Regions from separate parts of the Homo sapiens genome. Here region 1 is reported to be linked to region 2. Evidence: microRNA targets listed by miRTarBase, many of them from high-throughput screens and not tested one by one. Region 2 holds a microRNA gene; the other region holds the end of a gene's coding sequence.
The links. Region 2 holds the annotated microRNA hsa-miR-634 (AACCAGCACCCCAACUUUGGAC, at 2,248-2,269, shown strand). A microRNA usually pairs through its seed, bases 2 to 8, with sites in the 3' UTR of a target mRNA and lowers its output. Matches are read on the target gene's strand: a 7mer-m8 pairs with bases 2 to 8, a 7mer-A1 pairs with bases 2 to 7 and ends in A, and an 8mer does both.

Region 1 (4,401 bases), not on the chromosome of region 2:
AGAAACATCAGAGAATTCACACAGGGGAGAAGCCATTCAAATGTGAGATATGTAGTGTGAGCTTCCGTCTTAGGTCAAGTCTTAATAGGCATTGTGTGGTCCACACAGGAAAGAAACCAAACAGCACTGGGGAATATGGAAAAGGCTTCATTCGTAGGCTGGATTTGTGTAAGCATCAGACGATCCACACAGGAGAGAAACCATATAATTGTAAAGAATGTGGGAAGAGCTTCAGACGGTCCTCCTATCTTTTGATCCATCAGCGAGTCCACACTGGAGAAAAGCCATACAAATGTGACAAGTGTGGGAAGAGCTACATTACTAAGTCAGGTCTTGACTTGCACCATAGAGCCCACACAGGAGAGAGACCTTATAACTGTGATGACTGTGGGAAGAGCTTTAGACAGGCCTCAAGTATTTTGAATCATAAGAGACTCCATTGCCGAAAAAAACCATTCAAATGTGAGGATTGTGGAAAGAAGCTTGTATACCGGTCATACCGTAAAGACCAACAAAAAAACCACAGTGGAGAAAATCCATCCAAATGTGAAGACTGTGGGAAGCGCTACAAGAGGCGCTTGAATCTTGATATAATTTTATCATTATTTTTAAATGACACGTAAGTGTTGTACATATTTATGGGGTACAGTGTGATATTTAAATATATGTATATGATGTATAATGATCAAATCAGTGTAATTAGCACATTTATCACCTCAATTATCTCTTTTTTGTGTTGAGAAAATTAAAAATTCATTGTTCCAGCAGTTTGAAAATAAATTGTTGTCGATGATAGTCACCTTTAGTGCTGCAGAACAGCAGAACTTCTTCCTCTTATCTACCTGTACTTTTGCATCCATTAGCCAACCTTTGGCCATCCCACCTATCCCTTACCCTTCCCTGCCTCTAGAGCCACTGTTCTCACTACTTCTAAGAAATCAGCTTTTTAAGCTTCCCCATGTGATTGAGGACAGTTTGAAGTTAGTGTTTCAGCCATAGCTCAGCATACCCCAGTGGTCGTGGGACTGTCAGAGCAGAGAATGCTGCAGGGTTTCTAACAGAAGTTTGACAATTAGTTATTATTCAGGAGACAGGTCTTAGTATAAGAGTTTGTTCACACACTTTCAAAACACTAATGATGAACATGTCAAAATTGATGACCACTAGAATGTCAGCCACATGTGTCTTTGTATTTTTGCTGCATCCTTACATTGCTTGAGTCTGGAAGATTGAGGCTGCACTGACCTATGGTAGTGCTACTGCACTCCAGCCAGGGCAACAGAGTGAGACCCTGTCTCCAAAAAAAAAAATTAAATAAATACCTTTCTTTGTTTCTAGACAAGCATCTCTCTGTGTTTCTGGAATTTTTTTTTTGAGTGTACATACATAGTGTGTTACAATTATATTCTTATTTTCTTCAGCAGTGAATATTTGCTGGTATTTTTCTATTTTATAATTGTATGCATTATTTTTAGATTTCTCAGTGAACATCAGAAACCCCATCTCTACAAGAAATACAATAATTAGCCAGTTGTGTTGGTGTATGTCTGTAGTCCCAGCTGGAGACTACTGGAGAGGCTGAAGTGGGAGGATCGCTTCAACCCAGGAGGCAGATATATATACAAATGGAATAGAAGTGAGAGTCCATAAAGAAACCCATACATCTAAGGCCACTTGATTTTCAAGAAGGATCCAAGATTACTTTATGGAGACAGAATAGTCTCTTCGACCAATACTGCTGGGACACCTATACACAGACACACAACATAATGAAGTTAGATTGTACCTCACCCTACACTTAAAAGTTAACTCAAAATTCATCAGTGACCTAATGTAACAGCTAAACTATAAAAGTATTAGAAGAAAACATAGAAGTAAATCTTCCTGACTTTATTTGGAATGGATTCTTCAATGAAACAACATAAGCAAAAGCAAATATAAATACCTAAATGGGACCTAGGTTTTAAAAAATGCTGTGCATACATGGACATTGTCATGAACATGAAAAGACCATACAGCATGAGTTCTACTATCCAGATTATATAAAGAATTCTTACAACTCAATAACAGAAACCACTCAATTAAAAAAATGGGCAAAGGGCTGGGTGCAGTGTCATGCCTGTAATTCCAGCACTTTGGGAGGCTGAGGTGGGCAGTTTACTTGAGGCCAGGAGTTCAAGACCAGCCTGGCCAACATGGTGAAAGTCTGTCTTTACTAAAAATACAACTAGCTGGATGTGGTGGCCTCCTGGGCTCAAACCATCCTTCCACCTCAGCCTCTTGAGCAGCTGAGACTACAGGCGTGCACCACAGCCTCTGGTTAAGTTTTGTATTTTTTTATAGAGATGAGGTTCCTCCATGTTGCCCAGGCTGGTCTCGAACTACTGCACTCAAGTAATCTGCCCACCTCAGCCTCCCAAAGTGCTGGGATTACAGGCATGAGCCACTGCACTCAGCCTAAAAAAAAAAAATCCTAATTTTTATGGGTACACATATGGAGTATATATGTTGATACAGGCATACAATGCATAATAATCATATCAGGGTAAATGGGGTATCTGTTACCACAAGCATTTATCAGATTTTTGTGTGTGTTAGAAACAATCCGTACTCGTTTAGTTATTTCAAATGTACAATAAATTATTATTGACTGTAACTCTGTTGTGCTATCAAATACCAGATCTTATTCATTCTATCTAAGCATAGTTTTGTACCCACTAACCATCCCCACTTCCCTCACCACCAACCTTAACTTTCCCTCCCTCTGGTAACCAACATTCTGCTCTCTGTCTCCATGCATTCAATTGTTTTAATTTTTAGCTCCTACAAATAAGTGAGAAGATGTGAAGTTTGTCTTTCTGTGCCTGACTTATTTCACTGAATGTAATGTCCTTCCAATTCCATCCATATTGTTGCAAATAACAAAATCTCATTCTTTTTGTGGCTGAATAGTACTCCATTGTGTATATGTCCATTTCCTGTATCCATTCACCTGTTGATGCATACTTAGGTTGCTTCCAAATTTTGGTTATTGTGAATAGTGCTGCAATAAACATTGCAGGGGAGGGTGCAGATATCACTTTGATATAGTTTTAATTTTTTGAGGAACCTCCATACTGTTCTCCGCAGTGGTTCTACTAATTTACATTCCCACCAACAATGTGCGAGGATTCCCTCCTTCACTCCTTCCACATCCTCACCAACATTTGATATTGCCTGTCTTTTGAATAAAAGCTATTTTAACTGGAGTGGGATATCTCATGGTAGTTTTGATTTGTATTTATCTGATGATCTATGATGTAGAGCACCTTTTCATATACCTGTTTGCCATTTGTATGCCCTCTTTTGAGAAATGTCTATTCAGATATTTTGCTCATTTTAAAATTGATTTATTAAATTTTTTCCTATTTGGTTTGAGCTTCTTATATTCTGGTTATTAATCCCTTGTCAGATGGATAGTTTGCAAATATTTTCTCCTATTGTGTGGGTTGTCTCTTCACTTTGTTGATTGCTTCCTTTGCTGTGCAGAAGCTTCTTAACTTGACGTGATCCCATTTGTCCATTTTTGCTTTGGTTGTCTATGCTTTTGGGGTATTACTCAAGAAATCTTTGCCCAGACCAATGTCCTGGAACATTTCCCCAATGTTTTCTTGTAGTAGTTTCATAGTTCGAGGTTTTAGATTTAAGTCTTTAATCCATTTCGATTTTATTTTTGTATATGGTGAACAACAGGGTTGAAGTTTCATTCTTCTATATGTGGATATCATGTTTTTCTAGCACCATTTATTGAAGAGACTGTCCTTTTCCCAATATATATACTTAGCACCTTTGTTGAAAATGAGCTCACTGTAGGTGTAGAAATTTATTTCTGGATTTTCTAGTTTACGCAGCACTAAAAAGAATGTACTGTACATGAAGTGATTTCTAGGATATGTTGTTACATGACCATAGAAGAGTTAGAAACGTGCTTTCTTTTAAGTAATAATGGAAAATAAGAAATCTACACATACTGATACGGTTTGGCTGTGTCTCCACCCAAATCTCATCTTGAATTATAGCTCCCATAATTCCCACATATCATGAAAGGGACCTAGTAGGAGGTAATTGAATCATGGGAGTGGGTCTTTCCCATGCTGTTCTCGTGATAGCAAGGACAGATAGAGGAGTGACTTTGAATAGAATGGGAGGCAGGTTTGCCCTAAGCGATTTCCAGCTTGAGATTTCCTTAGTGATTTTGGGGGCCCAAGATATTTTCCTTTCACAATACTAAGCAGTTTAATTTCTCTTAAATGTGGCATTTCCACGTCTAAAGAATATTAATATGAAAACTTTAAAAGTGGGAAGATAGCTTTTCCAGGAGGGCAATTGGCCCTCCATATTGGCCCTTGACAGGGCAGGAGC
Region 2 (4,401 bases):
GGGGCCTCTCAGGCTCCATGTTGCTCCTGCTGGTGGAAGTTGCTGTGGCCAGCTGCCCCTGCCCTGTTCTGAGTCCCTCACAGGCAGGCTCATTTTAGCTCTCTTCACCCACCTGCAGCTTCCACCAAATTGAACCTTCCTTACACCAAGCACTTACAACAGAAAAAGAGGCCTATTTATTTGTATTTCCAGACCAAAAAATGTTGAGTGGTACCAGACACCCAGGCCTCTCTCTGTCCTCCCACTGGGGCTCTCTGTAGACTTGGCATCTTTCCCTCAGGGCACGTGGCTCCTGTCCAGGACTGGGCAGGGGACTGAGGTCAGGTCTCGGGTGTTGGATGAACAGGTTGAGGTGATTTGTGGGTGGTGGTTGAGGGGAGGGACCTACTTGGCTCAACGGCTGCCTCTGACTTGGGAGAAAATGTTTGATAAGAAGGGCATCCTTCTGACTACTGCGAAGTTACCTGTGATCGAGGATTCAGTTCAAAATTAAGCCAAACACCATCACTGTGTGACCTGCCCGTGTCAGCCAAAGTGACTGACTCCTCTTTCCCACGAGAAAGGAACATCTCAAGATTAAACAAGAGGATTCTGTACAAGCGCTGGTCCTTGCTCTGCCTTTCTGACGCTAAGCTCAAGGTTACGCAGCCAAAGGGGGAGCATTACGGAATTTCCCATGAACGCTTTCCTCCTGTGCCATCCCGCCAGAGTGACCGGGAAGTGATGGATCCCTCAGGACTACAGACATGCTGGAGGAAAAAGTTCAAAGGGCATTGTGAGCTCAGCCTTTCCTCCTAGAAGGTGCTCAAGGCCCCTCCCAAGAGAGTTGCTCTGTCTTAAATAATAATACTGCTAAGTTGCCTTCATTCGGCGCTTATTGGGTACAACATAAAATACAAGGCACTTTACTCCCAGAAACCCCATCTTACAAGTTGGAGAACTGTGTTTTTGTTTTTGTTTTTGAGACGGAGTCTCGCTCTGTCACCCAGGCTGGAGTGCAGTGGTGCAATCTCAGCTCACTGCAAGCCCCGCCTCCCAGGTTCAGGCCATTCTCCTGCCTCAGCCTCCCCAGTAGCTGGGACTACAGGCGCTCGCCACCATGCCCGGCTAATTTTTTGTATTTTTAGTAGAGACGGGGTTTCACCATGTTAGCCAGGATGGTCTCGATCACCTGCCCTTGTGATCCGCCCGCCTCGGCCTCCCAAAGTGCTGGGATTACAGGCGTGAGCCACCGCGCCCGGCCTGGAGAACTGTGTTTTAAAGAACGAAGTCATTTGCCTGTGGACACCCAGCTGGGAAGTTAGTAGAGCTAGAATTCTGGTCCAGATCCACCTGACTCTAAAGCCACAAGGTCCCACGGGGCCACCGTGCCTTCCTCTCTCAGCCTGGTAACTGTAAACCCAGTCAAAGCGGATGAGGGAGGAGTCCAATGGAAGCTAAGGTCCCATCACTGCTGCTGTGCAGCTGGAAGGCCCTCCCTCAGAGCAGCTGCTTGTTGGGTCAGAGGCCCAGTGTGAATTACTGGGAACATCCTCTTAGGCCACGTTCTCAAGTCCCCTTCACCCCAAATGAAAGTGTTGGCATTTTCTACCGGCCACCCCCACCTTCTGACCACAAAGCCATCTGTAACCTAACTTGATCGTAATTAGATTTTTAGCACATAATTACAAGATTAATGGATTAATCATAATTTATTTGCAAATCATTAAAAACATTACTCAAAAACACTTTCCCTAAAGATTGTTTGGGTTGCCCAGGGCAAGATAATTAACGAGACAGAGGGGAAAAAATGAAAAACACACAACCGTCAATCTCATTAAAGATGATCAAATAAACCGTCAAGTTAGCTGAGCAAACTGTGCAGCCTGTGGTGGGGCTGAGAAACCTGGTCTGTTCCTTGGTGCTGAATTGGCTCTTCAGGCACCATGTGAATGAATTACTCTGCCTAAATACTTTCCCATCTTTCTTTTTTTCCGGAACAGCCTCCATTTGATGGTGAAGATGAAGACGAGCTATTTCAGTCTATCATGGAGCACAACGTTTCCTATCCAAAATCCTTGTCCAAGGAGGCTGTTTCTGTCTGCAAAGGAGTAAGTCGATTTGGATACCTTTTGTGATCATGGACCAAGAGCTTTGGTAGGAGAAATACTTTCCCCACACTTCTAAGAGAGATGGCAGAAACACCACAAACCCACACCACTGCATTTTGGCCATCGAGGGTTGGGGCTTGGTGTCATGCCCCAAGATAACCAGCACCCCAACTTTGGACAGCATGGATTAGTCTTGGCCTGTTTTGAACTCTGCACAAACCGAACCTTGTAGTGTTGCTCCTGGCCTGGCTGCTTTCACTCAATATGGTGATTGAGGATTTAGTTCCTCCTTTCATATTGCTATGCAGTGTTCCACTGTGTGAACACACCATCGTTTCCTTATCCATTCTACTGGGCAGGGCACAGTGGCGAAAGTGAAGGCCAAGAGAATGGATTGGAATCCCAATACTTCCTGGGACTCTGGCCCAGTCACCTAATGACTGTACCGCACTTTTCATTCTAATCCATTTCATAAAATTGTGGTGGGGACTACCAGATGTCATCAGAGTCCCTTAGAAAGTATGTGCTCTCGTCTCCTGTCTTACTTGGTGTGACTTAGTTCTTTCTTTGCTACACTTTTCTTGAGCTATAGCATACATACAGCAATTGGCACAAATCATCAATATGCTGATAAATGAATCTTCACAAAATGAATCCACCCATGTAATTGCACCCAGCTCAAGAAACCATGTTTCCACCACCCTGGAAGCCCTCTCCTGTCCCATCTACAGTCACTACCCCGCCCCAAGATAACCTGCCCCCCAACTTTGGACAGCATGGATTAGTCTTGCCTGTTTTGAACTCTGCACAAACTGAACCTTACAGTGTTGCTCCTGGCCTGGCTGCTTTCACTCAATATTGTGATTGAGGATTTTGTCTGCATTGCTGTGTGGGGCCATAGTTCCTCCTGTCATATTGCTGTGCAGTGTTCCACTGTGTGAACACACCATCGTTTCCTTATCCATTCTACTTCTGGTGGCTATTTGGATTGTTCCTGCTTTGGTTTGAGGCTGTTACAAACAGAACTGCTGTGAACCTTCTGGGGCATGTGTTTTGGTGAAGATATGCACACACTTTGGTTGAGGAAATGCTCTAGGAATAGAGTTGCTGGTCATGACTTGTCTAGTTTTGAATGGTCAAGAGTTAGATCACAAAGCTATTTTCAGGCTTAGTAAGATGGAGTACAATATACCCTTAACAGTATCTGGTGAGTGTGATCATTTGTGAGGCATTTGTCACGTGTCATCCAAGAGCAAGGCACTTGGAAGAGATACTGAGATCGGGAGGAACTGGCTTCTGCCTTCAGAGAGTTCATAGACAGTGTTTGTCTCTGTGTCCTGCAGTGGGCAAGTCGGAATTAACTAGTCGCCTTCCTTGTTATAGCATTTATTTTTCTAATCTATGAGTCTTTGATTGATAACATTTTGGCCCAGACAATACGTAGACATATGATGCTTATTATGGCATCCTCTGTGATGCTAGACTGTGATGCTTTCAGCACACACAATTTTTAGTGATTGCATGCTTTTTTTTTTATTACTAGATACATGTATAGCATGGTGTCTCCAAAACAGACAACGTGTGAGATGTCTGTTTAAATTCTTCTTCCATTTGGCCATGGGTTCAGATTGCTTCCTTGTTCCCTTGTCTTGAAAACCACCATAGGAAGGGCTATTCTTGCCAATGTCATTTTTGTGAGTTGGCTTCACTTCGTACAAGCCACTGAGTGTCTTGGTCAGCTCTCTGAGATGCTGTCCAGGCGTCCACAAAGTCAGGGCTGTAGGCAGAGCTAGGCAAATGGAAGGTGCTGTCTGTGGGAAGCCCTTGACATCCATTGTTCTCCTTTTCTCCTTTTCCTTTCTAGCTGATGACCAAACACCCAGCCAAGCGGCTGGGCTGTGGGCCTGAGGGGGAGAGGGACGTGAGAGAGCATGCCTTCTTCCGGAGGATCGACTGGGAAAAACTGGAGAACAGGGAGATCCAGCCACCATTCAAGCCCAAAGTGGTGAGTCCAGAAAAGCAGCCTGTTTTCGGAACCCCATGTCCCCAAATTCTGGGAGTATCCCACTCACCTCTTTTCTTGGAGAGAGGAGGCCGGTGCCCCTGGCTTGTACAGGGTGAGGAAACGGGCCAGGTTTCAGCCTTGTCCTCAGTCCTGTGGCCTCAGCAGCCGGGATTCCTGCTGCCTTCAGAGAGTAAGGACCGATAAGGCAGGGAGGGGAACCCTGTGCACACTTCATCCTCCAGCTGGACAGCTGCAGAGCACCCCCGCACGACTAGGGAGTGAGGGCAGCTGTGCTTTAGGTCTGGA

Region 1: the mRNA of ZNF223 is a reported target of hsa-miR-634. The part of its 3' UTR that is shown has no 7-base or 8-base seed match.

The regions. Positions count from the first base shown.
Region 1 is chr19:44,066,655-44,071,055 of GRCh38, forward strand. ZNF223 (zinc finger protein 223) reads left to right here. Exons shown (of 5, transcript NM_013361.6): 5 at 1-1,345. The coding sequence ends at 623. Among named protein-coding and RNA genes, the nearest start is that of ZNF284, 3.3 kb to the right of the region's middle.
Region 2 is chr17:66,784,885-66,789,285 of GRCh38, forward strand. It overlaps MIR634 (microRNA 634), which reads left to right and starts at 2,188; the gene lies at 2,188-2,284. PRKCA (protein kinase C alpha) reads left to right here. Exons shown (of 17, transcript NM_002737.3): 15 at 1,983-2,090; 16 at 3,955-4,095.